4 separate regions of the Homo sapiens genome follow, and all the other regions are linked to region 1. Evidence: fine-mapped expression QTL. A gene starts in region 1. Each other region holds a variant in brackets. All regions are shown on one strand. Distances are from middle to middle.

Region 1 (7,771 bases):
TCAAAAACTATTTCTTTAGTGCCTACCATATGATCAGTACAGGTTGAACACTCCTAATTCCAAAATCTGAAATGTGAAATGCCGCAAAATCCAAAACTTATTAAGTACTGACATAACACCGTAGTGGAAAATTCCACACCTCATATAATGGATCAAAGTCAAAATGCAGGTGCACAATACACAGTTCATTCAGCATCCCTGAGGGAAAAAACCAAAATTACCTTCAGGCTATGTGTATAAGGTATATATAAAACATACAAGAATTCTGTGTTTGGACTTGGGTCCCATCCCCAAGATATCTCATTATGTATGTGAAAATATTACAAAAAAAAAAATCTGAAATCCAAAACATGGTCCCAAGGTTTTTGGATGAGAGATAATCAACCTCTAACTATATGTATTTTGTGCCTATTATGCTACTGCTGCAAATACAGTTATGAACAAGGTATATATGGTCCCACTCCTCACAGATATTAGTCCAGGAGGAGAGATAGATATTAAAGTAATAACTGATTCCAGATATAAGTAAAATAAATAAAGAGTGGAATACTTCTGAAACAAATTACAAGGGCATCTTACCAAGTTTGGAAGGACACAGTGTTTAGCAAAGACTTGTCTGAAGAAGTGACAATTACACTTAGACATCAAAAGTGAGTAGAAATCAACCAGACTAATACAGAGGCAGGAGGAAGGGTGATGGTTGAGAGCAAAGAAAACAGCTTGTGTGATGGTCCCTACACTAGAGGGAACTTGGTAAATTCAGACCTGAACTGCTATTGTGAAGGCAATGTAATTAACGGGGTGAATGGGTATAAAATATGAGGTAAGTCCTAGTGAAGATCTTAGAACTGTGGAAAGCTACTGGATGATATAAAATAGGAACATAAAAAAATCAAACTTGCATTTTAAGGACTTTTTGGCTGAGTATCAAATGAATCTTTAAAAAGTCCAGTTATATCACAATTTTGATAAAAGACTGGTGGGTAGGATGAACAGGAGATATTTAGCCAACCTGAAATGAGTCAAGAATTGAAAGGGCTTAGTGAAGAACAGGAGGCAGAGGAGGTGAGAAAGCAAGACTGACTTCTAGATTTCTTTCTCAAATGTGCAACTGGATTGATGGTGGTAGCATGGACTGTTTCGCTGGTACTGCCTTGCAGTGCTAGTCAAATGGAATCTATATACCATAGATTCTCTTAACTCCTTTCTCTATAACGTGTTTTTTTTTTTTTTTTTGAGATGGAGTCTAGCTCTGTCACCCAGTCTGCAGTGCAGTGGCGCAATCTCAGCTCACGACAACCTTCGCCTCCCAGGTTCAAGCGATTCTCCTGCCTCAGCCTCCCAAGTAGCTGGGATTACAGGCACCCGTACTTACTACTAAATATATATATATATATACATATATATATATATATATATACACATATATATATGTAAAGTGGTGCTACAGGCCGGGCACAGTGGCTCACGCCTATAATCCCAGCACTTTGGGAGGCTGAGGCGGGTGGATCACCTGAGGTCAGGAGTTCCAGACCAGACTGGCCAACATGGTGAAACCCTGTCTCTACTAAAAATACAAAAATTAGCTGGGCGTGGTGGCGGGCGCCTATAATCCTAGTTACTCCAGAGGCCAAGGCAGGAGAATTGGTTCCCATCCCCAGCTTCAACCTGGGAGGCGGAGGTTGCAGTGAGCCAAGGTCGCGCCACTGCACTCCAGCCAGACTCGGTCTCAAAAAAAAAAAAAAAATAGTGCTATGATAAAGCCTCTCATAAGGAATAATTATCAAAATTAAAATTCAGATGCACAGGACGATTTTAGAGGAAAATAAAAATTAAGGTATAAAAAGCAATCAATAGAGAGTACCTAACATACCAAAAAGTTGAAAAGCAAAAGAGGCAACCATACACAGTGGGTTGCGAGGGGGGTGTTGTTGAAAAGGCACGACTATTTTAAGCGTGTAGAATTTTAGGGATATAAGGATGAAAGCAGAGATCTCATGCAGACCTTATTCTAAATTGGCAGAGATAGTTCTTTTCAGAGTGAGGTGCACAGATAATTTATTAATAGAAAGTTAGCCTGCTTCCTTCCATGTCTTTAACAAAATCCTTTCATTTCATGATCAAAATGCAAATGTAGCCAAGAGTTCTGCAATTCACATGACTTAAAGGGAGGTTCACAAATGCTACCATTGAGGGGAGAAATGGTATTCAAAAAGTTTTGAAAATTTTATTTTTGATCTCACGGGTTGATTTAAATACTGTGTAACACCACATCCCCTCTCCTTCATTTTTTGTTTTACTTCACTTTTTTGTGTTCTTACTCTCTTTATAATCTTCATTTCACACCAAGTTTTCTCAGAAGAGATCTTGATGATGCAGCCAACACAAACCATCAGTTCTCAATTGTACATCAGTGATTCCACCAGAGAAAATGTGAGTTTTCTGTTCAAATGGGATCCTGTGGCCATATACATAAGGAACCTAAGTACAGCTAACCTAAGAAAATAGGCTAGAAGTGAGGTCTTATACTCTACCTTTTTCCAAGGAAATATACAAGACAGTAAATTTATATTTATATACACACACATATATATATTCATACATAAATCCACTTACAAAATAAAACTATTAAGTGTTGATACATCGAAAAGGATAGAAAAATAAGCTGAATATTAAGAGTAACATTCTCAGAAAAACAGCAAGGTAGATACTGAACAAGTGAAAAATTAGATGCAAAGGCTCTAAAAGTGTAATTCTTTGAAAAGAAAACCAGGACCAGTGCAGAAAAAGCCAGCAGCCCCTCTGCAAGTGCTACATAAGAAAATGAGGCCGGGCATGGTGGCTCACGCCTGTAATCCTAGCATTTTGGGAGGCCGAGGCATGTGGATCACCTGAAGTCAGGAGTTCGAGACCAACCTGGCCAACATGGGGAAACTCCGTCTCTACTAAAAATACAAAAAATTAGCCGGGTGTTCTGGCGGGCACCTGTAATCCCAGCTACTCCAGAGGCTGAGGCAGGAGAATCGCCTGAACCCGGGAGGCGGAGGTTGCAGTGAGCCGAGGTTGCGCCATTGCACTCCACCCTGGGCAACTACAGCAAGACTGTGTCTCAAAAAAGAAAAAAAGAGCCTACGGTGAAGGAGAGAGAGATACAGCAGTGAGAATTTCATAGGGTTATCTTTTAACAGAGACGGAAGCTGACGTGAGTAGACCCTGGAAAACGTCTAGGCCCACTGCAAATAACAACATCGATCAAACACTCATAATACAGGTGGATGTGAGTAAAAAGGAGACAAAGAAAGAAGACTACAAGAGAGAGGCCATCTGAAATAATATAAAAATAATTGATCATCTTTGATATGTTTTTACATGGTTGTCTTATTTAAATATTCACAACTCCTGGAGGTAGGGTTTTATTTTACAGAAAAAAAAAAAAAAAAAACTAAACAGGCTCAATGATGTTTAAGTATCTAGTCCAAGCTCACCACAGGGGCATAAAGTGGCAGAACCGACATTAGAGGGTAGACAGAGGGTAACCGCAAGACACAAATTTCGTGTTCTGCAACACTTGTGTAGGCTTCACACACACGTGCCTCCGGGGCCGAAAACAGGCGACACCATAGCACTTGGGCACTGGTGTCACCCGCTTCAAGAGGAAACTAGGATAATTATGACCAAAGGGGAACTTGTTCATTCGCCGGATATTAAAGGTGCCTACTTAAGTGCGAAGAACAGGAGGCATAGCGGTGACCAAACACCTGGCCCCTGTCCCCGCCGGGATCCCAACCTTGGGGACCCCCGAAGCGCCCCGGGCGGGAATCGGGTGGGACGCGGCACGCAGGAGGGAACGGGTGTACTGGGTGGGGTGGGCGTGACGCTGTCACCGCAGGAGATCGGGCGGGTAGGGCGGACCTGGGATGCGGGATAGAGGGGGCGCGGCATTCGCGCGAGAGGGACGCGGTGCGCAACCGGCTGACTAGGGGCCGCAACGCCTAGCGCGCGCGACAAACTACGCAGCGGCGGAGACAACTCTCAAGGGATAGGGCCATCAGCCCTGCGGCCCTGGCAGGTCCCTACCAAAGATCTTGGAAGATGCCGTTTGGGGCACTAAGGGGACCTGAAGTCCTCCCCAGGCTCATTCCCGCCTGGGGGCCTTGGCTCTGGGAAGGCACGCAAGGTAAAGGGAGCGCAACGGAAACTCACCGTCCATGGTCTCCCGCACCGCATTCAGATTCGCCGCCGCGGCCGCCGCCGCCGCCCCAGCACCGCTGCTACTCGCCATGGCTAAGGCCGAGGGAGGCGGGAGAAGGGCCTGACCCGGAACTGGAGCGCCTTCCTCTCTCCGAGGCAATCACACAGCGCGTCTCGGCCCACGCCGGGCAGGCTCCGCCCCTCGCGCTCGCCGCCGGCGTGAGGCTGCGTTGATTTGAATTTGGAGCCACGTTCCTCTGCGCGGAACGTGGAGCGAGGAGTTGCCATTCGAATTTCCTACGCGGCCTCCGTGCGATTGGCTGGTTCGCGGATGGCGGGACGACACGATTGGCTAGTCGCTCACAAGCCCCGTGCCCTGGTTGGCCCAAGACAGCGCGGAAGCGGGGAGTTAAAGAGTCTATGCCTGTCGTGGAAGCTGGCCTGGCCCCCGGAGCTCCCTGGAGTCGGTACTGGGGGCTTCGTTTTGTACGCACCGGTAGGTACGCTCTTTGTGGTCCCTGGCCTTTCCTCCTGTCTGAATGGAGAGGTTTCTTTTCCCAGCTCCTGACTTGCCTGCCCGCTCGCCCCTGGTGAATGGGAGCAGTCAGGGAGTAGGTGTGGAAGAGAGGGGCACCAGAAAGAGTGGCCACGTAGGGTTGGGGGCGACGCCTCCTTCGCACTCCATCCAGGGAAGCCGGCTGCATCTCAACCTTCCAGAAGTAGACTCTTTTCCACCCCACCCCGCCAAGGTGTAGCCTCTGTAGCCTCCTTTGATTGCAAGTAATGCAGTCTCCCTTTCTATCCCGGGAGGGGTGGAGGGGAGGTCTTGGCGAAAGGAGGATTTTTGGAGGAAAGGGGACCCCAGGCAGTTAATTTCCTAGCCCCTGTCAATCATACTTCTCTGGCTAGGACTCATGTGCAAGAAAGGCACAAGCTTCCTCATCTCTTACCTGCTTGCTACAAAGAATTGTTTAATAGCAACTGTAGTTGGATAGGGTATCCGAAGAATGTTCATAGTGTTGAGACATGAGATGATGAATTTAAAAAAAATTGTAGCTATAAGTCCTTTAGTTGAGAAGAGATCTGGGCCTGTTGTAACCTTTAGTTTCCTCAGAGGCAGATCTGAATTCATTCATATTTGATTGCTGCGTATAAGCCACTTCACTTCTCTGAGCTTAATACTTTCGCAAAATAATATCACTAGTAAGTTACTGCTATAGCTTTCAAGGTTGTTTCGAGGATCAGTTGAGAACATTTATATGTGATACTTTTTTTGTAAGCTGTATCATAGCCCCAAGAGTGTGAGGTTTTGAGTTGTTTTTTGTGACACATTTGTCGAGTACATTTTAATAGTTAAAATTAATATCTATGGGACTTTGTAATTTTAACATGCATACTCTTGATTTCTTTTTAGTTTTCTCTCTGTGCTATGGGAGATGTCAAGGAATCAAAGATGCAAATAACACCAGAAACTCCAGGAAGGATCCCTGTTTTAAATCCTTTTGAAAGTCCTAGTGATTATTCTAATCTCCATGAACAAACTCTCGCCAGTCCTTCTGTTTTTAAATCAACAAAATTACCAGTAAGTTATTCCTGACTAGTGTTTACAACTAATTTTAAATGTAAGTAATTACAAATAATTTTAAATGTAAACATCTGTCTTTACAAGGTAAGGAGGAAATACATTATGGAGCATATATAGCTGCAATATACTTTTTTAAATTGTAGTGTTCATTATAATCTAGTGGTTAGGTTAATAAGTTAGCTAGAAGATTTTTTTTTTTTTAAGTTCAAGAACATACGTTAGCTTCCTGCAGTTGTGGGTGTAGCTACATTCTGTGGTTGACGATATAGCTACTAATACATTAGAGAAGAAGCTGCATCATCTAATATTCTGTTCTCACTTATTTGGCAAACATTATTTGAGTGTTGCTATGTGTCAGATACAGTGCTAAGCAGGGATTACACTGTGAACAAGTTAGGATCATTAGGCACAAATCCTTAAGGAGGTTATACTCCGATGTATGGGTCACAAACTTTCTGTTAGGGGCCAGACAGTAAATATTTAAGCTTTACAGGTCATTTGGTCTCTGTCACAACTACTCACTTCTGTCTTGTATCACAAAAGCAGCCATAGGCAATGTGTAAAGAGATAAATGTTACTCTGTTCCAATACAGCTTTATTTATGGACACATTTGAATTTCATATAATTTTCACATGTCACAAGATATTTTTTTGTTTGTTTTCCCAACCATTTGAAACTGTCAAAATAATTCTTAGCTTGCAATCTATTATAAAAAGAAACTAACCCCTATTTTAATGTGTTAAACAGAACTAGATGAGTAATATCAAGGCAGTGTGATAGGTGATATGATTAGTACTTAGGACAATAGTAATATGAAGGAAAAGTGTTCTTCAGGATATTAGAAAAGGCTTCATCACTTTATCTTTTTTTTTTTTTTGGTAGAGATGGGATTTCACCATGTTGGCCAGGCTGATCTCGAACTCCTGACCTCATGTGATGCACCCACTTCAGCCTCCCAAAGTGCTGGGATTACAGGCATGAGCCACCATGCCCGGGCCACTTTATCTTATTTTACTGTTATTTGCTACACTGGATAAGTTCTTTTGACCTTGGATCTTTCAACCTACCAAGTTACTTAGAAAAACTGCAAATAGGGTGGCTGTTTCTGCTACACTTTCATACAGGTTTTACAATGAGCAAGTATGTACTAGTGGAAGGTCGAGCAGTTTATATTGAGTCATTTCATCAATCTGACCTTATGATTTTTAATTGAATCATTAAAATTTATCTCTTGGTCTTACTAAAAATAAATAATAGATTGACGGCAGCTTAATCCTCAAAGTTGGAATGTATGGCATCTTGCGTTTTTAGGACTGAATTTGCCTAGAATATATTTCTAATTACAGATTAGGATTTGGATAAACCTTTAATTCAGTTGCATGGTTGAGTACAGAAAGGCAGCACTGGTTGCCATTCATAATTATTTTAAGGATCAACTATGTTGTGAGCTTTTGCAGCCACCTCCAAAGTGACTAAGGACTTTAATTTCAGTTCCTTCTTAGTGAAAGTAAAGACGTTTGTTAACTGTGAGAGATTTTTACTTTTACATGGGCTTAGTTTATCACACTGATGAGTGTTAATTGTGAAAGTTTTATATCTTTATTACTCTGTTGTGATTTTTCTCGTATTACGTAATTCCAACCCAGGTGAAAGATTCTGATATTTTAAAAGAGATACAGGCTGGGCGCTGTGGCTCATGCCTGTAATCCCAGCACTGCCAAGGTGGGCTGATGACTTGAAGTCAGGAGTTTGAGACCAGCCTGGCCAACATGGTGAAACCCCATCTCTACTAAAAAAAAAAAAAAAAAAAAAATACAAAAATTAGCTGGGTGTGGTGGCGGGTGCCTGTAATCCCAGCTACTCAGGAGGCTGAGGCAGGAGAATCGCTTGAACCGGGGAGGTGGAGGTTGCAGTGAGCTGAGATTACACCAGTGCACTCCAGCCTCGGTGACAGAACGAGACTCTGTCTTAAACAAAGAGAGAGAGAGATACAA
Region 2 (7,771 bases), 320 kb after region 1:
CTAAATATTGTGGCAAAAGTTTTATTGCATATAACAAGAGCTGAAACACAGGGTGAACGCACTGCAAATGTGTCATAACCATTGCACAATGCCAAATATCATAATATATGAAGGTATACCACCACCATTTGACATGTTTTAGTGTTGTAGGGCACTAAGTGTACACAGTGTATTTCTCTGCTGTAAAATGTAGGCTACTATAGAGGAAGAACAGTAATCAGTTACACATTAACCATAAAAGGTCATTTCTTGCGGCAAATGATATGTTGATCAAGCAATATTTGTCAGTAGACCTGAGTCTTACTACTGAATGACGCTCATGAAGAAAACCATTGTCCAGTGGGACATCATCATATATGCAAATCATCCATTTGTTTGGATGGTTTAAATATCATCAAGTCTTTATCTTCGCTTCTATAATGTAACTCACTGACTTTTCAGCTAATCAATCCCTGATGCTACATTTTTCTGTTAACTTACTATGCTGCACAGTCAAACAATGATTAATCTCCTAATGTTAACTATGCGATAAGAAAAATATTAAAAGAAAATGAATGACGTATTCACTTGTGTTACAAAATTGTCTATAAACTAGTTTCCCAGCATGAGCTGTGGTTTATTTTCAAACTTAAATAACTTGTCTATGTAACCTTATCTTCCAGGTACTTCCTGCAAACTTCATACATTATGCAATCAAGCCCATAAATATAGGTAGAAGTTAACTTGAATGGCTGAAACAGAGTTAACCACACACATGTAGTTAGAGCGTTATCATTTCTGCCATAAACCTCTCCCTTTTAAGAGATTTACCAAGCTATCATAAAAAATGTGTTATTGCCTGTATCTTTGCAAAACATGAGTTCCTATGAAGTGACTTGCCAGCCTGGGCAACAAAGACAGACCTTGTCTCTACAAAAAAATTTAAAAATTAGCCAGACGCAGTGGTATGCGCCTGTAGTCCTTGCTACACTCAGGAGGCTGAGGCAAGAGGATTGCTTGAGCCCAGGAGTTCCAGGCTGCAGTGAGCTATGATTGCGCCACTGCACGCCAGCTTAGATACCAAAGAAAGATCCCATCTTAAAAAAAATGTGACTTGGCTTCTTTTTTTTTTTTTTTTTTTTTTTTTGACGGAGTCTTGCTCTGTCACCCAAGCTGGAGTACAGTGGCACGATCTTGGCTCACTGCAATCTCCGCCTCCCAGGTTCAAGCGCTTCTCCTGCCTCAGCCTCCCGAGTAGCTGAGACCACAAGAGTCCAACACCACGTCCGGCTAATTTTTGTATTTTTAGTAGAGACAGGGTTTTACCATATTGGCCAGGCTGGTCTCGAACTCATGACTTTGTGATCTACCTGCCTCAGCCTCCCAAAGTGCTGGGATTACAGGTGTGAGCCACCGCACCCAGCCGACTTGGCTTCTTAAACATTAAACATACTGGATTGTTGCTACATGTCACAATGGCCAGTGTGTTTGTATACTGATATCACTGAATTGAGGTGGCACTGGTATTAAGTATCCTCTCTTTAGTTTTTGTAAATTTCTGAAAAATTAACATATTATAACTCCAATGATGACATATTACCAGGATCATACAAACAAATGCATTCAACCACCTCACCAAACAAACAAGGCGAAGTGTAAACCAGGATGCTTTATGGAGGAAAAAAATGAATAGACTTAATCAAATATTCATGGTGAGAGGGATAGAGATTTTCCAGAGACATATCAACCGAAAATAATTGGGCAGGAAAATTGAAAGGATCAGACTTTCTTTCATAAGTTGACTTTGTAAAATGCTACATAGCAAGCATCACATTGATCATTCTGCTGGTTCCTTTTCAGGAGCTGCTGCCAGTGCTTTGTATCTTACAGCATATGTGGAGTAGATTAAGAAACTAAACTCAGTTATTGTGAGGTTCTAACATTTTTTAAACAGGTAAACACAAGGCCTCTCTTTCTCTTTGTATCTTTATTTTATTTTATTTGTATTATTGTTTTAAAATTTATTATTCTTTTTTTTTTTTTTTTTTTTTTGAGATGGAGTCTCGCTCTGTCGCCCAGGCTGGAGTGCAGTGGCGCAGTCTCTGCTCATTGCAAGCTCTGCCTCCCGGGTTCATGCCATTCTCCTGCCTCAGCCTCCCGAGTAGCTGGGACTACAGGCGCCTGCCACCACGCCTGGCTAATTTTTTGTATTTTCAGTAGAGACAGAGTTTCACCATGTTAGCCAGGATGGTCTCGATCTCCTGATCTCGTGATCCACCCACCTCGGCCTCCCAAAGTGCTGGGATTACAGGCGTGAGCCACCGCGCCTGGCCTTATTATTCATTTTTTAAAATAGAGACAAGGTCTTGCTATGTTGGCCTGGCTGGTCTCAAACTTGTGGCCTCAAGCAATCCTCTTGCCTCAGCCACCGAAACTGCTGGGATTACAGGCGTGAGCCACCATGCCCAGCCTAGAGATCTTCTTGTGTCAGTACAGATATAGACACTTTATTCTGTTAAAATTGCTGAATAGGCCAGGTGCGGTGGCTCACGCCTGTAATCCCAACACTTTGGGAGGCCGAGGCAGGCAGATCATGAGGTCAGGAGTTCAAGACCAACCTGGCCAACATGGTGAAACTCCATCTCTACTAAAAATACAAAAATTAGCTGGGCGTGGTGGCGCGTGCCCGTAATCCCAGCTACTTGGGAGGCAGAGGCAGGAGAATCGCTTGAACCTGGGAGGCGGAGGTTGCAGTGAGCCAAGAGTGTACCACTGCACTCCAGCCTGGTGGGGGTTGCAGTGAGCCGAGACCGCGCCACTGCACTCCAGCCTGGTGACAGAGCCAGACTCCATCTCCAACAAAAAAAAAATTGCTGAATAGTAGTACATGGTGTGGATGTACTAGAGTTTACTTAATCATTTACTTGATCATTACATACTTACTGTTGGATATTTAGATGGCTGCTGATTTTTCATTATGACAAACAGTGCTGCAATAAACATTCTGCTATGCCTATCTTTGTGCACATTTGAATAATTTTGAGGAACAAATTCTTAAAAATGGAATGTCAAAGTGTATGACACTTTTATGTGTGTGTGTGTGTATGCATATATATATTTTTTTATTTTTTATTTTTGTAAAGATGGGGTTTTGCCCATGTTGCTCAGGCTGGTCTCAAACTCCTGAGCTCAAGCAGTTCACCCACCTCAGCCTCCCAAAGTGCTAGGATTAAAGGTGTGAGTCGCCACACCCAGCCGAAATTTTATATTTAACAGATCCATGAAATTGCCCTCTGTACAGATATATATTTTACAAAGTCCACAAGAAGTTATATTTTTACTGACATTATGAGACTTTCAGTTTCCTCTACATCCTCCTGGAATCTTTCTCATTTTTGTACATCAGTTGAACAAAATGCTATTCCATTACTGTTTTAATTTGCATTTTCCTCATAGTCAGGGGGTTGGAAATCTTTTCCTATGTTTATTGGCCATTTGTATGTCTTTTTTGTGAATTGCCTATTTACTCCTATTGCCTAATTTTTTGTTTGTCGCATTAT[C/CT]TTTTTTTTTTTTTTTTTTTTTGAGATGGAGTTTTGCTCGTTGCCCAGGCTGGAGTGCAATGGCACGATCTTGGCTGACCACAGCCTCCGCCTCCTGGGTTCAAACAATTCTCCTGCCTCAGCCTCCCAAGTAGCTGGGATTACAGGCACCCACCACCACACCTGGCTAATTTTTTTTTTTCTTCCTGAGATGGAGTCTCGTTCTGTCACCAGGCTGGAGTGCAGTGGCGTGATCTCAGCTCACTGCAACCTCCACCTCCTGGGTTTAGGTGATTCTCCTGCCTCAGCCTCCCTAGTAGCTGGGATTACAGGCATGTGCCACCACACCCAGCTAATTTTTTTGTATTTTTAGTAGAGACGGTGTTTCACCGTGTTGGCCAGGATGGTTTCAATCTCTTGACCTTGTGATCTGCCCACCTCAGTCTCCCAAAGTGTTGGGATTACAGGCGTGAGCCACTGCGCCCGGCTAATTTTTGTATTTTTAGTAGAGACAGGGTTTCTCCATGTTGGTCAGGCGGGTCTCGAACTCCTGACCTCAGGTGATCCACCTGCCTCAGCCTCCCAAAGTGCTGGGATTACATGCGTGAGCCACTATGCCTGGCCAGTTTATCTTTTTCTTTAAATAGCTTTTTAAAGAATGTCTTTTGTGATTGTGAATATTAATCTTTTGCTGCAAATAATTTCTCCTAGTCACTTACTATTTTGGGAACTTGAGGGTAGAGGGGTCACTTATCATTTAACTTTTTTTTTTTTGTCAGGGGATAGAGTCTCACTCTGTCACCCAGGCTGGAGAGAATGGTGAGATCACAGCTCACTGTAGCCTCAACCTGATAGGCTCAAGCAATCCTCCTGCCTCAGCCTCCCAAGTAGCCAGGACTACAAGCATGAGCCACTGCACCTGGCTATGTCTTTTAACTTTATGATCACACTGATTCACAAGACTTTCCATTATGTTAGAAATTCTCCTGGACTTTATTACATAAATTATTTACACATCATGGAGAAATCTGATTTGATCCATTTAGGGGCTAATTGTTCTCATCAATTTATGTAATCTGTGTTGAACCCTAAGCACCAAGCTAGTTCTTGCCCGGAATTCCCTCCGCTTTCCTCCTATCTACCGTTTTGCAGTTTGCAGAGACTTGCGCTTTCTTTAAGGGTTAATCCAAGTATCAAAGTCCACAGTGATCTCTCTCTTCCTGGTTCACCATGCATTTGGGACATGATAAAGTTTTGTATTTTGCATGTGTATATATTGTAACTTAAACTAGATGGGATTCTATTCAACTGAAGCAGCTTCGCTTTTGTCTGGACTCTCAGTGTTTTTACTCATAGGAGTCCAGTACGTATCTGTTGGTTGTTTTAAAAATACTTTATCATAGGAAAATCTTCAATGACTCCTTTCTCCCTCATACATACACGCTGTGGGCAATTTGCATCGGCATCTCTTCAATCATCCTTTGTGTGTGCTCTGTCTTCTGTTGCCACGTGCCATTAGGCCACCCTGCTCATTATGTCTGGGATTCCAAACCTCAACAATAATGTTGTGAACAGTGTTAAGGATCTCATTTCTGCCGGGCGCGGTGGCTCACACCTGTAATCCCAGCACTTTGGGAGGCCGAGGGGGGCGGATCACAAGGTCAGGAGTTCGAGACCATCCTGCCGAACATGGTGAAACCCCATCTCTACTAAAAATACAAAAAAAAAAAAAAATTAGCCGGGGGTGGTGGCAGACGCCTGTAGTCCCAGCTACTCGGGAGGCTGAGGCAGGAGAATGGCGTGAACCCAGGAGGTGGAGCTTGCAGTGAGTCGAGATCGCACCACTGCACTGCAGCCTGGGCGACAGAGCAAGACTCTGTCTCAAACAAAAAAAAAAAAAAAAAAGGATCCCATTTCCTCAAAACGTTCTGGTGGCATAAAAAGAAGAATCTAGTATTTTTCACATTTGAAAGATATATCTTTAAAGTCCAACTGGTGCCTGGCATGGGTCTTTATTTCATGCTACCTCAGATCTGCCTTCTCAAACACATTGCAGAGCGCGATGTCGGGATGGCCCCACTAAGATCAAACCCCATGGTCCTTGACAGCAGGTTTTTTGGCTTTTCAAAATTAAACCCAGGTTGGGCACGGTGGCTCACGCCTGTAATTCCAGCACTTTGGGAGGCCAAGGCGGGCGGATCACGACGTCAGGAGTTCAAGACCAGCCTGGCCAACATAGTGAAACCTCGTCTCTACTAAAAATACAAAAATTACCCAGTCATGGTGGCACATGCCTGTAGTCCCAGCTACTTGGGAGGCTGAGGCAGGAGAATCGCTTGAACCCGGGAGGTGGAGGTTGCAGTGAGCCGAGATCGCACCATTGCACTCCAGCTTGGGCAACAGAGTGAGACTTCATCTCAAAAACAAAAACAAAAACAAAAACAAAAAACACCTAATCAAAACTACATTAAAATAAAATTGATATTTTATTGTTTGAATTGTGCATATTATTACCACTGCCTCTACTATGTTTACCTTTTTTTTTTTTTTTTTTTGAGACAGAGTCTTGCTCTGTCGCCCAGGCTGGAGTGCAGTGGCGCCATCTCGGCTCACTGCAAGCTCCGCCTCCCGGGTTCAAGCAATTCTCCTGCCTCAGCCTCCCAAGTAGCTGGGACTACAGGCTCCCGCCACCACACCTGGCTAATTTTTTGTATTTTTAGTACAGACACAGTTTCACTGTGTTAGCCAGGATGGTCTCGATCTCATGACCTCGTGATCTGCCTGCCTTGGCCTCCTAAAGTGCTGGGATTACAGGTGTGACCCACCGCGCCCGGCCTTTTTTTTTTTTTTCTTGTGACGGAGTATCACTCTTGTTGCCCAGGCTGGAGTGCAATGGCATGACTTTGGCTCACTGCAACCTCTGCCTCCCGGGTTCAAGAGATTCCCCTGCCTCAGCTTCCTTAGTAGCTGGGATTACAAGTGCCCACTACCACTCCCAGCTAATTTTTTTGTATTTTTAGTGGAGATGGGGTTTCACCATGTTGGCCAGGCTGGTCTCAAACTCCTGACCTCAAGTGAGCCACCTGCCTTGGCCTCCCAAAGTGCTGGGATTATAGGCATGAGCCACCGCCCCCGGCCTATCCTAATATTTTTTAAAGACATAACGGCAGTAATGTTCTTTCTGACATTTTCATTTAAAGCTCTGGAGCCTCGTGTGTGTGTGTGTGTGTGTGTGTGTGTGTGTGTGTGTGTGTTGTCTTCATTCTCATACATTCAAAGCATTTAGTGTGCTACACGGCAGAAACTGCACCATGGGTGTAGAATAAAAACAAGTTTGATAACTGTGGTAACTGTGGTGGCACCTAAGACATCGAGGCCATCATGACAGAGAAATGACTAGTCCATGAAGACAGAGGAAAGGGATGTGTTTGAACTGAGATGGAATTGCTTGTGTGGATTAGTGCTGGGTTTTCTTCAAGTTAACTTTCAACCTTCTATAAATACAAATCCTCGAAGACCAGTCCTAGACAGCAGAATTTCATCTGTTAAAATAAAGTCTTCAAACGTTATTCCTTTTATTGTTTTTAGTTTTATTTCACAATGATTTCAAACCTACAGAAAAAGTTGCAAGAATAATACAAAGAATTCCCATTCTTTTTTTTTTTTTTTTTTTTTTGAGACGGAGTCTTGCTCTGTCGCCCACACTGGAGTGCAGTGGCACGATCTTGGCTCACTGCAACCTCTGCTTCCCAGGTTCAAGGGATTCTCCGGCCTCAGCCTCCCGAGTAGCTGGGATTACAGGCACACACTACCATGTCTGGCTAAACTTTTTTTTTTTTTAAGAATTCCCATATACTTTCATCCTGATTTGCTAATCATTAATATTTTGCCACATCTGCCTCTCTCTCTGTATATCTGTTTCTATGTCTGTTTATATCTCTCAGTATGCATATAATACACTCTCACAGACACACATACACACACAGACTTTTTTCTCCTGATTTACAGTTAATTGCTCACATCATGGCCTTTACCTCCTTTGAATAATCAGGGTGTGTATCCTTAAAAAAAGGATATTCTCTTATATAACTAGTTATTTTTATTTTGTTTGTTTGTTTGGTGGTTTTTTGTTTGTTTTTTTTTTTTTTTTTGAGACAGAGTCTCACTGTCGCCCAGGCTGGAGCGCAGTGGCATGATTTCTGCTCACTGCAAGCTCTGCCTCCCAACTTCAAGCAATTCTCCTGTTTCAGCCT
Region 3 (7,771 bases), 460 kb after region 1:
GAGAATTCTAAGCCATGGGCTCCAAGGCATGGGACCCTGTGCCTTTGTCATGGTGCTCTTGCTGCCACTCATATCCAGGTCTCCCTTTGTCTTCCCATTTACTGAAGAGAACAGACATGAGAGCGGTGGTTGAGTACAGTGTCTATGGCCTGATGGAGCAACTGTGAGAACTTGGAGCACCGAGCATGAAGGCACATGAGGGGTCAGGTGAGGTGGGGGTCAGGGGTAGGGTCCAGATGTGGAGAATTTTTTTTTTTTTTTTTTTTTGGAGACAGAGTCTTGCTCTGTAACCCTCACTGGAGTGCAGTGGCGTGATCTTGACTCACTGCAACCTCTGTCTCCAGGGTTCAAGTGATTCTCCTGTCTCAGCCTCTGGAGTAGCTGGGATTACAGGCATGTGCTACCATGCCCAGCTAATTTTTTGTATTTTTAGTAGAGACAGGGTTTCTCCATGTTGTCCAGGCTGGTCTTGAACTCCTGACTTCAGGTGATCCTGCTGCCTCAGCCTCCCAAAGTGCTGGGATTACAGGCGTGAGCCACTGCACCCGGCAGATGTGGAGAGCTTTATGTACCGTTTCAAGTGGTGTAGACTCCTTCTACGGGCAAAAGGACATCTTTGCAGGGCTTAAGCAGCAAAGTAATATGAACAAATTTGTGTTTTAGAAGGGTCATTCTGATAACAGAGTGAAGAATGAATGGGAAGGAGGCATGACTTGAGATGGGAAGACAAATTAGTATTTAGCAGAGCAGAGTGAAGTGGGTAGCACTGAGCTGGAATCAGCAATTGGTGATAGATGGGATTGGGAGGTCAAGGATGGAAGTGATTTCGAGTAGAGGAGCCTGGGTAAAATAAGTTCCTTGAGCATTTTTGAACTTTACACTTGCTTTCATCCTCTTCATCCATGGCCATATGCTTCCTAAAGGGATGATAATAATTACGATTATTAGAAAAAAGTCTTTTTAATTCTTCCTTCTGAACTGAAGCAAATGTAGAGGTGTGGAGTTCAAAGTTAGAAGATCTCGATGACATGGGCAATTCAATTGCCTTGGAGCCTCAGCTTCCTCTTTGGTAAAAGGGAGATAATGCTGCCTACATCACTGGACTGTCATGACAGTTAATTGAAATAATGTATTAATGTATATAAAAGCTTTTATCAGTACCTGATATAAAGCGGGCATTTAGACCTCCATTCACTCAATGTATTGTGCAAGAGAGAAGTTTATTTGGACAACATAGTCTTTTAAAATATATGTATTTTGGTGTAGTGGCTCAATGCCTGTAATCCCAGCACTTCGGGAGGCTGAGGCGGGAGGATCACTTGAGGCCAGGAGTTGGAGACCAGCCTGGCCAACATGGCGAAACACCGTCTCTACCAAAAATACAAAAATTAGCCGGTATAGAGGCACACACCTGTAATGTGAGCTACTCACGAGGCTGAGGCATGAGAATCGCTTAAACCCAGGAGATAGAGGTTGCAGTGAGCCGAGATTGTGCCACCGCACTCCAGCCTGGGCAAGAGTGAGACTCTGTCTCAAAAAAAAAAATGTGTATATATATATATATATATATATATATATATATATATACACACACACACACACGTATATATATATACACACACGTATTTATATGTATTTACATATATATTTATATGTATTTTTAATATTAACATTGTATTACAAACCAGAATTTATTGAAGACTTACAATCTGCAAGGCACCATGAAGGATATATAAATGGAAGACATTGTTTCGGTTCTTAAGGTTTTTTGCAATCTGAGAGAGAGAGGATTTGTATGCGTGAAAAGTGTAAAATCAGTAAAATATTTAACCTTGTTTTATTTTAAATTTTAATTTTATTTTATTTTTATTTTGAGAGGAGTCTCGTTCTGTCACCCGGGCTGGAGTGTAGTGGCGCCATCCTAGCTCACTGCAACCTTTGCCTTCTAGGTTCAAGCAATTCTCCTGCCTCAGCCTCCTGAGTAGCTGGGATTACAGGCGACCACCACCATGCCTAGCTAATTTTTTTTTTTGTATTTTTAGCAGAGACAGGGTTTCACCATATTGGCCAGGCTGGTCTCGAACTCCTGATCTCAAGCAATCTGCCTGCCTTGGCCTCCCAAAGTGCTGGCATTATGGGCGTGAGCCACTGTGCGCCCCGACCTAACCTTGTTTTAGAGGTCAGGGGACAATAGAGAATATGAAACAGATAATAATGAGAGTTATCAGATGTGTTTACTTAGAGGCAGAAGATGTCACTTTACCCTAGAGTACTTACAGAAGGCTCTAGGGAGGAGGTTGAATTTGACCTAGATTTTAAAGATGATTTAGGGTTTATAATGTAGGTGTTGGCAATCTACTGCCCAGTACATTATCTGTTTTAATATGGCCTGTGAGCTAAGAATGGCCTTTAAATCATGGAGAAATTGTTTTAAGAGAATAATATTTTGTGACACATAAAAATTACATGAAATTCAAGTTTAGTGCCAATAAATAAAGTTTTATTGAAACACAGTCGCACCCATCCTTTTAGTATTGTCTGGGGTCAGATACATTTGAGATAAAATAGAGGAGAGCACTTGTAGCAGAGACCCTATGACCTGCAAAGGCTAAAGTGCTTACCATTTGGTCCTTTACAGAAAGCTTGCTGAACCCTGGAGAAGAGGATGCAGAGACATTCCAGGTGTGTAGAAAGCCAAGATTAAGAATGGCTCCATTGAAGGAAACAGAAAATGGTCACAAACAGAGAAGGAGTGTGTGGGACTTTCCTGGCAGCCATGGAGGGGAGAGAGAGTGTCTCAAGGGGTAAAGGGCGTCCGTAGTGCCAAGTGGTACCAAGAGAGAGCGCAGAAGTGCAACTGAGGAGAGAATCTGAGCTTTCGCCTTCAGCCATCACTCCTGAGTTTTGAATCCTGTGGCAGAAGGGGAGTGAGAGATGGGGAAGCAGAGGCAGCGTTTAAGAAATTGGGTGCAATCAGAAAGGTTTTAGTAGGGAAACACCCATGTTGTTTAAGTACAGTATGAAATGGAATAGACCTATGTATATTCATATGCAGAGGGAGAGTAAAGCAATTAGGGAGGTTTTGGAGAGGTTATGTAGAGGGTCGGGCACGGTGGCTCACACCTGTAAACCTAGCACTTTGGGAAGCTTAGATGGGAGGATCATTTGAGCCCAGGAGTTCAAGACCAGCCTGGACAACATAGGGGGATTCCTTCTCTACCAAAAATAATAATAAAAAAAAATATTAGCCGGGTGTTGTGGTACATGCCTGTGGTCTCAGCTGCTTGTGGGGCTGAGATGGGAGGATAGCCTGAACCCAGGAGGTCGAGGCTTCAGTGAGCTGTGATCACACCACTGCTCTCCAGCCTGCATGACAAAGTGAGACCCTGTCTCCAAAAAATATATATATATGTGTATATATATGTGTGTGTATATATATATATGTGTGTATATACACACGTGTATATACACACGTGTATATACACACGTGTATATATGTGTATATATGTATATATGTGTATATACATGTGTGTATACACATGTGTATACATGTGTGTATATACATGTGTATACGTGTGTATATACATGTGTATACATGTATATACATGTGTATGTGTGTGTATATACGTGTATGTGTGTGTATACACGTGTATGTGTGTGTATACACGTGTATGTGTGTGTATACATGTGTATGTGTGTGTATACATGTGTATATGTGTGTATACATGTGTGTGTATATATGTGTATATATATGTGTGTGTATATATATATATGTAGGCTATGTAGATATGTAGAGAAATGCTATTTAAAACAGTGAGGTTGGAGAAACATTGAAACAGCATTATTTTAGCAAGACTTCTCTCAACTGATTAGTTCTTGGC[C/T]TTGGAAAAGTTGCTTAACATCTTGGCTTGCTTTGCTTATCTATGAAGAGTGGATAATAATACACTCATCAGAGGATCATCGTGAGAAATAGTGAGATGATTCTGTTTGGGCAATGTCAAGAACATGAGATCTGCACTTAGTACATTGTCAACAAAGAAATAACTCTTTTTTTTTTCTTTTGAGACAGAGTTTTTGCTCTTGTAGCCCAGGCTGGAGTGCAATGGCGCGATCTCGGCTCACTGTAACCTCCACCTCCTGGGTTCAAGTCGTTCTCCTACCTCAGCCTCCCGAGTAGCTGAGATTACAGGTGCCCACCGCCATGCCAGGCTAATTTTTGTATTTTTAGTAGAGATGGGGTTTTGCCATGTTGGCCAGGCTGGTCTTGAACTCCTGACCTCAGGTGATCTGCCCACCTCGGCCTCCCAAAGTGCTAGGATTACAGGCATGAGCCACTGTGCCCGGCCAAGAAATAACTCTTAATGCTGTGATGTTTAAGTTTTTATATCAACATGGGTAGGCCATGGTACCCAGATTTGTGTCAAACAGGAGTCTGGATGTTGCTGTGAAGATTTTTTTAAAGATGTGATTAACATTTAAATGAGTGGACTTTGAGTAAGGCAGATTTCTCTCCGTGAGGTTGGGGGGCCTCATCCAATCAGTTGAAGACCTTAAGAGAAAAGACTGAGGTTCCCCTGGGGGAGAAGGGATTCTGCCTCTGGACAGCCTTTGGACTTAAACTACAACATCAGCTTTTCTCTGGGTCTCCAGCCTGCTGGGCTCCCCTCTAAATTTTCAGACTTGCCAGCCCTCAGAATTGTGTGAGCTAATTCCTTAAAATAAATCTCTCTCTCTCTCTCTCTCTCTCTCTCTCTCTCTCTCCTTCCATCCTATATATTGTTTTTTTTTTTTTTTTTTTTTTTGGAGAACAGTGACTAATTCAAATAACTTCTGAGTTAGACAGTAATCACTAACAATGAAAGTGTTACTATATTAAGGGACAATTGCTTTATACCCCAGAGACGGCACATACAATGCATTGATGTCACCGTGCTCACCATGTCCCATTTCTGAGCCTGTGGCAGACATTGTCAATTGATCACAGTATTCTGTATTGCTAAAACTAGATGTGACCTCAGAATTTTTTAAATACAGGGTTCTAGAAATGACTAACAAGTGATTAGAGTTGGCACTTAACTTGAAATAGATTTAATTCCGACCTAATCCATATTTAGGTATCTACAGCACTTTGCATAAAATTCTTCCTGGAACTTTGCAATTGTGATTAATAGATCTGAACTTGAAATTTAGAAGTTAAAATTTCAATTTCTTATGTACAAGTCTAGAAGCCACTAAAGTCCTTCATCTTATGTAGTAAGGACCATGTCATATTTGCCTTTTAGATAAGTTTTAAAAAATATATATCTTTTAAAGGTATCAGTGACTTTGAAATTCCAAAATAGAGTTAGAATAAAAAAACCCTGAAATTATACTTTTTTATTTCCTCCAAAACTAAGGGAACGTTCATATATAATTTATAAAGACTTCATTTTAATCCTTGGTTAAAGTGTTTGATCAAATATTCTTCTCACTTGAATATGTGTAACATTTATTGAAATCAAATAAGTGCACATAGCAGAGGGTTAAATTTTACATTCTCTTTTTTTTGTTTTATTTTTTACTTTAACTTTTTTAGCATTTCAAATGTTTTTATTATGAAAAATTTAAATATATACAAAATATGAGAAATTATATAATTCATCCCCAGATATGCATCACCCAGCTTCCATAATTATAAACTCTGTCCAATTATTTTATCTATACTACCATGCTGTTTTTCTTCCTTTCTCCTGGATTAGTTTGAAGAAAACACCAGACATTATATCACTTATAAGTATTTTGAATATATCTCTAAAAGATAACTTATTTAAAAATATAATCCCAATTATGACACACAGAGTACTAACAAAAATTCCGTAATTTTTTTTTTTATTATACTTTAAGTTTTAGGGTACATGTGCACAATGAATTTTACATTCTCTAAGCTCTTGATAAGAGATTTACTCACAAAGCAAGTAGGAATTCCTTGGCTTTTCAAATTTTGGGGGGTCTGTTATGGAAAATTTTTGTACTGTGTATGAAGAAAATATATGCTACCTTGGAGTGTGGTGGTAATATCATGTTTCTATGCTATCATTTTTTTCCAAGTATTTAAGTATTTTAAGATGTTATCTCTTTAGTTTTCATAGCATGCTAGGAAGGAGGAAGGACATGTTGTTCTCACCTAGCAGTAAAATTAGGTAAGCAGTTACTCAGTCTCTTGCATAAGCCACTGATCGAGCTGGGGATGTGATACCAAACAGTCTTCTGCTCAGTCGTCCATTGTGACCCTGCAGCATCTCCCATCAACCCATTCATCCCATTTTCTTTTTCTTAGTTAATAACTACACAGTTGATTCTTGCTTATCTGCTCTGAGGGAAAGGGGAAGAACAGGGCATAATCTCAAATGGTAGATGATACAAAAATAATTTGGATTTGGCGTGGGATATGTTTTTGTACTTGCACTGGAACCTGGGTGTGTCTGGTGTTCCAGAAATTTATAGCATTCCAAATCAACTGAAGAAACTGTGCAAGGAGAACCCATGGTGGGGGTCTTCGCAAATGCACCTCGTTTGTCTCCATTGTTTCCTAGCCCATCTCCTGCCTTCCTCAAGCTCTTCCCTGCTGAGATCAGGCAGCGCGATCTCTCATGTCAATGTGTCGAAACAGCCTAAGGAAAGCTGTTTTTTCTTTCTCTCTAAATCCTATTATGAGGCATTCATCTTCTCCTTCTCCTGGGAATGAGAGAAACCGGTATCTTGCATTAGAAATTGTTAATCATTTCTTAAAGTTTGTTTTTTTAAATGCAAAGGTACTGATACGATAATGTACTAAGAAAAGTTAAAACAAGATTTTTTTTGAATATGTAATAATAGGAACAATGTAAGAAAGACACTGCAAGTCTTTGATATTGTGTGGGTATCAGATAATGACAAGTGAATGAGAAACTTCATAAGAAAGTGAAAGTATCTCTTTACATTTTGTGGTGAATGGGAAGAAGTTCTAGAGTTCTTTTGCAGCATTTGCTTGTTTATCCAAAGAAACAAACACTAGTATTACCAAGGTTCTGATTTTGTGTATCCTCACTTTCATCCTGAATTGTTAAGACTCTTGGTTGTGGTGATAGAAGCCCACCTTAGCTTAAACAACAAAAGGAAATGCACTGACAAATGGAACCAGATTAAAATGTCTCACTGGCTTTAGTGACAACTGGAACTGAGAACCTGAATGATGTCTGGCCTCTCTATTTGTCTGTCTCGTCTCTGCCTCCTTCTGAAGCCAGCTCCATTCTCTTCCATGGCAGCCTGACTCTCTCCCTCGTGGAGGAGGTGAGGGAGAGGATGACATGTCTGGCAGGCAGCCCTTGATTTAGTGACTCGAGAAATAAGAGATTCTTCTTCTTTTGGCAGCCCGGCAGAGACATTTTGGGAAGATTCCCAGTAGTTCTTTTTGGTTCATGCGTCCACCCCTGAACCAATTGCTGTGTCCAGGAAGAGATGAGACTCCAAGATGAGTCCCATAAAACCCTGTTGTGAAGTTGGTGGTGCCTGTTCACAGAAGGAAAAGCGGAGAAAGAGTGGCAGATGGGCAAAACTAATAGCTATTATGCCTCCATTCATGTTGATTTTCAAATATAGGATTCATCTTACAATAAGCTTATTACTTTTTTCAGAAAAAAGCAAAAATCTGCAACACCAAAAAATATCTAGTATTCACGACACAGCGAGACTCCGTCTCAAAAAAAAAAAAAATCTAGTATTCACAGAATAATCTTAACGTTCTTGTTCAGAA
Region 4 (7,771 bases), 890 kb before region 1:
AGGCCCCCAGTCTTTCAGGTTCATTTCTGGTGTTCCTTATCCAGACATCACTACGGCTGTTGCCTTATGCTTATACTGTTGCCATGCTTGTACTCACTAAACCCCCTTTCTACTTTCTTCCTCCTCACTCCCCTCCCACAAAAATTCACTTAAATCCTGTTATCTGAAGACCAGTAGTTTTCTTTTCAATACTGAGTAAAGTTGTCTAATCTGACATTCAGTTCACATTTATGTACTAACGTAAGAAAGTTAAAAGCATTAACCTCTTCAAAAACTTAAATATTTTAGTTTAAATTGTACCTTTTAAATAAAATTTCTTTAGACTGGGGAAGTTTTAATAGTTTGTGGTTCTATTTTATATACATGCTTTGACCAAGTATAATCTCCATCTACAAATCACATAAGATAAATATGTATTGAAGTCATCATCGGGCTTGGTTTTGTGTGTGTGTTTAAATGTAAGACAAAACATATGGTAGTTTCTAGATGCAAATAAATAAAATCCTGATCTTAGGAAATTATTTTTGAAAAATAGAATAGAATGACTTTGGACTTAATTTTCAAACACAATTAATTTGACTTTAGAATAAGTTTGTCTAATTTGGATAAATTTCATCTAAAACAAGAAAGTCACTGCAACTAAGTACGTACTGGGAATAAAAATTCAACTGTATAAATTTATACAAAATTAAATTTGCTTTATATACTTATTTCCTCCTCAAACCTAGGCTTTGACTTCTTTAAATTCTAAACAAGTAATTTTAGGCTGCTCATCCATTATCTCCAAGCATTCTCTTCCTGCAAAGGATCCACCATGGTAATAGTTCTTTCATCAAAGCCTAATGGTTTGTTTCAAATAATCAAAGTAGTGTTTATATCACTGTCCTCAGGTGCAACCATTTTGCTTCCCGGAGAGCAGTATGGTACATGCTAATGTCAGAAGTGATAAATCAAAGTAAGTACATTTGTTTGTCTACCTTAACCAGTCTATTCAGCACCACTAACAAAAATACATGTTGGCATTTGCACTTATGTACTTTCTATTTGAGACCATCTAGTAATAAAGATTACCAAGAAAAAAATGCATATGTAAAACAGATGGTTGTGCACAAGTCTTAGCCTTAGGAGAAATTCCAGTGTTAGATGGTGGTTGCTGTGAATTAATTTGTATGCTTTACCTAGGGAGAGTGTAAAAATAGAGGAGTAGTTCCACTATAAATGATCAATGATATGTTTTCTACTTATAGGAAATCAGAATAGCTTACTTTCTTAAAATCACCAAATATTTTAAGTAGATATATTCATTTATCTTTTACTAACATAAGTAGTAAAAAAGTTAAGAATACGAAACACACCTACAACACTAACAGATTCAGAAAATATCTGAGAGGTTGCAATCAAATTTATCTTATTTATATAGGCAAAATTCTTATGATAGCCAATAGGAAACAGAATCAAGTTAGCGTAAATTAGAATAAGAAATTGAGTACTATTGTTCTGGTCATTTGCAGCTTGAAGTTGCAGTGACACCCAGAGCTTTTGTTCTTTCAGCCAACGGAAGTTGTAGAAGTCACAAATGTTTTCTATATTCAAAAAATAATAGAACTTGTCTGGATATTGATCATTTCCAGTTTCCAGTTCCTGTCGTAGTGCTTTTAGCAGCACTAGAGAAAGTCTAAGGCAAAGAGAAACAGTGAAATCTGTCTACTCACCTACTTAAGCATATATAAATGAGGAAGAGACAAAGAGAAATTGACAAGTGGAAAATAAACTGAGATGAATTAAAGACCCACTATGTTTAACCGACCAGTCTAATATCCTTCGAGAGCCAGAATTCCCTTTCACGTTCATCTCTGCTCAAGAAAGTAAATGAGAGCAAAACTACCAGGTTTGTGACTCCTGAAGGGAAAAGAAGACAAGACAAAAAGAGCTCTCAAAATCTATCTTATGCCTAATAAAAAAGGAAGAGCTGCCAATCCCATCTTATTTACTTTTGGATTTTAGAACCATAACATAAAGTATATTCTTAGCAATAACACCTCACCCTGTTTCTCTCTACTCTAAGTGATGGCTTCTTCACAATCAAATTCAGTCAATAGCCCAAGACTGATAGGACTTATCTTGAGATGTCAGCATGGTTCCAGAGGAACAAACTGACAAAGCAAAGGCAATATGTTAGGGAATAAAATCTAGTTAAATGGTAGGATGCCTGATTATGGTCCCAGAAATGTATATAGATCAAATAGTGTTGAAGAAGCTTAAGTACAAACGATAAAATGACTGAATAAAGTTAAAGCCTTTTCGCCACCACATGAAGTGCTTCTAGGGCAAATGAAGAGGCATGTGCTATTTTAAAATGTCATCACATTTAGAGTTTTCCTTCAAAATTGTGGCTACTATTTCCTCAGTAACTCTTAATCTAACTGGAGTAATTTTTTTATTCCTAAATATTTCGAATATGGAATTGTTAGTTTTTCTCATGTTAAAATGCCCCATTTAAAATATTTAGTAACCACATGGTTTAAGTTAAATAGTATTATATAAAAATAAACATAGAAACTAATAAATACAAGTTAAAAAAAAATAGTAAGGTCCGAGAAACTGAAAATCTGCTAGTGATGTTTTGATCTCATACACATTTTTATATAAATGCATGTTGTCTTTCATTAAATCATTCCCCTCTAAAATGAGTCCTAACATAACTTGTGATATATAGGGTGGGCTTTTTTCTGTACTACTATATACCCACCAGAGAGTTAATCTTCTGATTCTATGAAAGACCCCCTTCAAATGAACAGCTTAATAATCTATCACAAAATCATGATTAATTTTCTACCACCATGCTACATACTGGGATTGCTCCCAAATGTTCAGTTTAATTTAAGTACTTTCTGATTCATGAACCGAGGGATAACATACAGCTATAAAAAGGTAATCCAATCCTAACATGGCCTTAACCCCTATAATCTGCACTTCAATAGCAGGGAAACTGTATAGTTTTGAAACTGTAATCAAGAATTTTTTTTGCAAACACACACTGGAGCTGTCCTTTGCTCCCATCTCTTATTAGATTACAATAAAACGACCATGCTCTCTTTATGGTGGGAACAGAGCGACCCTGGGGTGATTTATAATCTTGTGAAACCCTGTCCACACTGCTGACCAGACTTTTTTTTGAGGTCACTATCTGTTTCTTCAACTGATGTCTTCCTGCTGTGACAACACTGTTGGAGAGCTGTCAGCACACAAGAATTTCTCAGGCTAGGTATTGTCTTTGAACGCATTTCTTGTGTTATTTCTATTGAGAAGCATTTGCGTGCTTGGTGTTTAGACAGTAAAGGATCTTTCTAAGATTTTCTCGTTAGTCTAAATCCTGACAAAGAGAAGACAACTAAATGGGAATAAATGAAGTGGATCTCTTATTGACAAAGGAAGAGAATATTTATTTCTTCAAAATGTATAACATTGCCATGGAATACAAACAATAAAGCAACAATTCATGGTAAAAATGAGAGTATTGTTCTCCCCAATAGCAAAATAATTTGACTCCAACATGTTAGATATTGTCAAAAGTAAGTATTAGCTAAAATGCATGGGGCCTGCATAAACATAAAAAAATAAGTGTTTCGATTTTTGTTTTTAATGTAAAAAGCAGAAAAAGTTAAACTAAGAAAATGTTTTAATAGTAAATTTTCATAAAATAAGTTGCAATCTCCATTCTTGTCAAAAAATGGCTGTAGATGACTAAAACTGATGTTGAATATTCCCAAATAGAAAATTATACTTAAAAATCAAGTAGATCATAGCTAGAGTTAGAACTACCTAAATTTTTTTTGTTATTATAGAAGAGGAACTTGTTCAAATGATAGACCTTGATCAATTTAGCTTCTCAAAATAAGACATCTTCTACTACTGGAAATGTAAAAATGTAAGAGAAGGCATGATATCCAGCCACCTAGGTTCAATTAAAGCAGTTTGTTTCATTTTGTTTATTCTCATTTCAATTGTATTTAAGTTAAATGACCAAGCCAACATTAAATTGCTTTGTTTTTATATATAGATAACTCCTACTATTCTAAAAAGAGGAGTAATTAATTTATCTCTATTTTTCCTCTTTTTTGAGAGAAGACAATT[A/G]AGTAAAACAATCTGAATTCCACTCCCTACTTTTTTATTTTTATTTTTATTTTTAATGAAATCCATATAGCTTCAGAAAGACGCTAACAGGGAAGTTGCGCTCCCTTCAGAATCTTCTGAGATCTATGTGAATAGAACGTTTTGAAAGCTACAAGAAGAGAAAACATTTTGTAAGAGAGAGCCAACATTGATGTAAAAGAATCCTAGTGCATCAGATTCATCTGTAGCACCTGGGCTAGGAGTATTAGGGATGCTCAGTGAGAAATACCTGCCCCAGGACCCACTGAGGGATGGGTTCTATGGTCCAGTGGATGTAGGTCACTTTCACCCAGATACAGAGCTAGGTTATTTAAAGAGGCTCATGAAAGTCTCATAGTTTCATCCTTTTTATTTTGTTTATCTTTGTTTATAAAGAGAATAAACAAATTTAAACTAAATTTTGTTTGAAAGCATCCGTTAACCTAATTTGTACACATTACTACTTGAAGTATAAGTGGAGAGAATGATGGAAAACAACGATGTTGATAGACTAAAACAGAGATTTATAAACATATTGTGTAGCATCATAATTTTTTTTACAGTATCCTAATTTCAGGTGGGAGTGATAATGTTGGAACTTAACTATTCCTGAACTTGTATGAATATCACAATTCAGAGCCCACACCAACTATGGGATTTGGTGACACAGCCTGGGTACTTTATAAGCTTTTTTGATTTATAAGAGTATTCATTCATCTAAACTTTTATAACTAAGAGCAGTGAGAGACGCCACTTAAAGACCTTCGACAGTGTCATGCAGTTTTGCCTAGGATGGCTTTGTGAAGCTAAAATAAAAAAGTGTCTTAAAATGTTTTAATAGTAATTGATACAATAAATTGTAATCCCTAGTTTTGTCAAAACTACAATTTATTAACTAGCATAAATAAGTAAAACGTAGATTAATTCTCTGAAATAGCACAAGATATTTAAAATTCAAGTACACCCTATCTAGGGTTGGAACTAACTGATCCTCATCTTTTTATTCATCAGTATAAGTAATTTTGAAATGATGATGAAAAAAATGTTTAACTTTACAAAAGTATGGACACACTGGTAGTCATAACAAATACGTCAAATGTTCCTTTGTTTCCAGGAGGTAACCTACCATTTACCTTCTCCAAGGACTCTTAATAAAATGGACAGAAAAAATCAATTAAAGTAGCGAAATATCCCTTAGGATAAAGTTACTTCAGCAGTCAGTGCACTTCTCAGTAATCTCTTTATCTTGTGCTGAAGTAATACACATTTGTGCCATGTTTTTAAGTACTATATTTTTCATAATGAAGCTATTTAAAACTGAGCAGTGGAAAGAGAATGGGTGCTGATACAGCAAACGTTATGATATAAAAACAGGGTTATGAGGGAAGCACACACCAGAAATGGAAAACGTGATTAGAAGCAAAATGGATGATGCAAAGGTTCTCATATAACACGCCCGTGAAGTAAGACCCCAAATATCTACCTAATCTCCACTATCTAGAGCTATTGTGCCCAAGAGCACCTCTGAAATACTATTATGGGACATTATTTCTGGAATCACTATCTATATAAAAGAAAGTAGTCCCATGAATGAAGTCAGAACTTGAAGAATTCAGCATAGAATTCCACACGCTTTTTAACGGCTCTGTTGCCTCGCCGCACCCCGCTGTAGCCTATGTTTGACCAATTCTCTCATTTTATAAAGGGTGGACCCACCTTAACATTTAAGTGGCATCTGATGCACTACTTAAATTGGTTTCGTTTTCCCATTTCAAAAATTGGGACTTTAATACGATATTGGGAATAATACCCATTTGAGATCAAAGAAATCATGTGCACATTTTTGCATTGGGAATCAGAGAAGATGCATAATTTTTGGAAGCTGAATAGATACCCACATATTTGTCGGCATTCTGAAAATCCCAGGCATTGCATTTTTACCTCTGCTTTTTCTACTTCTCCCTTTTCCCACATTTGTCTTTCTCTCAGTGTTTGTCCATGTGCAGGGAGAGAAATTTAGTGTTGAGGCTCAGCCCAGGAATTTGCCAAACAGATAAGAAGACAGAAAAGCAAGCTTGCCAAAATTTTTCCCATTTCTCCTCAACTCCCCACCAAAATTCATTGTTCTTCCTACATATTTGCTGGTGAAAACTTTGGAAATGTTGGCTCAGAGAGTCACAATAAGACCAAAATAGACCAAAGGGAGCTGTTTGAAATGGTAACCACCAGTCTGTTAGAAAAGAAACCGGCCTGTTCACTTAATGAATAAAATACCTAGAGCTTGCCAAGGCAAATAAAGGCTTGTTTACTGAGATGTATACAAATACAAGAAACAGAGCAAAAGGACTGGAAGAAGTAAACTAAAGAAAAAATATTGTATGGAGAAGTCTGAATTAAAATGAGCTTTCAATCAATTTTGCAATCACTGTCATTCATGAGAAACTCTGTAATGCTTATTAAAATGAAAATAAAACAACAAGGGTAAGAATCCTGTTCTCTTGGCCTGCCTCCAAGTAAGGTAATTTTGTCTTGTCTCCTAAAATTATCCCAGAGGTAAAAATTATCTCAGACTTTTTAAAAACTGCTCATCTCTAAGCTACTGGTGATTGATCCTTTATGTATTGGTGAAAAAAAGAGGCCCTATTGGTCCATGACTGTATATATCCCCATTTGCCCATGATAGTCCTAGTTTATACCTATTGTCCCAACAGAATTAGTAATATTGTTTCTGTTTATTCTCAAGAGTGTCCTAGTTCGGCTAATTAATTTTATGGTTACCTTATCTATGCCACTCTGAAGGAATGAAAGAAGTGATGAAAGTCAATCTTCTAGCAAACAACAACAAAAAAATCACTTTAAAGAAGTTTACATTAAAGTTTATACAGATTCATTTTCTAACATTCTCCTACAAATCTTCTACTATCTCATAAAATCGCAGAGATCTGGAAATTTTCTATTGTATTTAAGATATTTATACCTCTTAATACAAAACCAAGTGAATGGTAATCACTGCAGGCTATTTACCAACTTGAAAAAATAAAATAGTTCACTAATACTCCAATTAAAAGCAGAACGGTTGAACACAGTTTATCATAGGTACTCAGATTCAGGAACTGGTAATAGTCTTACCTTATCTTGCTCAATAATTGCCTAATAATAAATCTAGCCAAAGAATTCTGAATCACACATTTTATTCCTTTCACCATCTTGAGAAAAAAGGTACCATTATAGAGTATTCTAGATATTTCTCATTAGAGAGAAAGTCCCATTTGGTAGGCTATGAAGAATTCTACATTTTCCAAAAAAAAAGACTAAAATATTAAATAAAAATTAATAGTCAATGTTTATTGAGTGGTTATTATGTCTCTCACTGTGCTAAGTGCTTAATATGCATAATTTCATTTAATGTCACCCAAGATTATTCCACTTTTAGACGAGTAAGCTAAGACTCACAGACTTTAAAAAACGTGCCTACAATCCCCAAGCCAGCAAGTGGCAGAGAAAAGATCTTAAAACCTAGTTTTTATCTGCAGCATAGTTTGTTCTTGTCCCTTAGAATTGCAGGAAAAAAAATGTAATATTTTCCTACTTGTAGATAATGCAAAGCTTTATAGCATTA

Which allele goes with the higher level. Positions count from the first base shown, and alleles are read on the strand shown. Sizes are in standard deviations (SD) of each study's normalised expression. Not every link is listed here.
For the expression in lymphoblastoid cells of the gene that starts at base 4,603 in region 1, allele G in region 4 goes with a higher level than allele A (large effect, 0.79 SD a copy in GTEx).

What was found. PIP is the estimated chance that this variant, and not a neighbour inherited with it, causes the effect.
Region 2: its variant is fine-mapped to the expression of BORA in whole blood (INTERVAL, PIP above 0.99).
Region 3: its variant is fine-mapped to the expression of BORA in visceral fat (GTEx, PIP above 0.99).
Region 4: its variant is fine-mapped to the expression of BORA in lymphoblastoid cells (GTEx, PIP above 0.99).

What each region holds. Positions count from the first base shown.
Region 1 is chr13:72,723,321-72,731,091 of GRCh38, forward strand. BORA (BORA aurora kinase A activator) reads left to right here and starts at 4,603. Exons shown (of 12, transcript NM_024808.5): 1 at 4,603-4,687; 2 at 5,606-5,773. The coding sequence starts at 5,621. It overlaps MZT1 (mitotic spindle organizing protein 1), which reads right to left and starts at 4,309. Exons shown (of 3, transcript NM_001071775.3): 1 at 4,204-4,309. The coding sequence starts at 4,282. RefSeq lists silencers at 3,755-3,814, 3,770-3,951, 4,475-4,624 and enhancers at 4,045-4,114, 4,835-4,884.
Region 2 is chr13:73,040,512-73,048,282 of GRCh38, forward strand. No RefSeq gene overlaps it. Among named protein-coding and RNA genes, the nearest start is that of KLF5, 15 kb to the right of the region's middle. The variant C/CT (reference allele first, on the strand shown) is at 3,540.
Region 3 is chr13:73,183,368-73,191,138 of GRCh38, forward strand. No RefSeq gene overlaps it. Among named protein-coding and RNA genes, the nearest start is that of KLF5, 130 kb to the left of the region's middle. The variant C/T (reference allele first, on the strand shown) is at 3,882.
Region 4 is chr13:71,828,809-71,836,579 of GRCh38, forward strand. All of the region lies in intron 1 of DACH1 (dachshund family transcription factor 1), which reads right to left. Among named protein-coding and RNA genes, the nearest start is that of DACH1, 35 kb to the right of the region's middle. RefSeq lists an enhancer at 2,908-3,513. The variant A/G (reference allele first, on the strand shown) is at 4,135.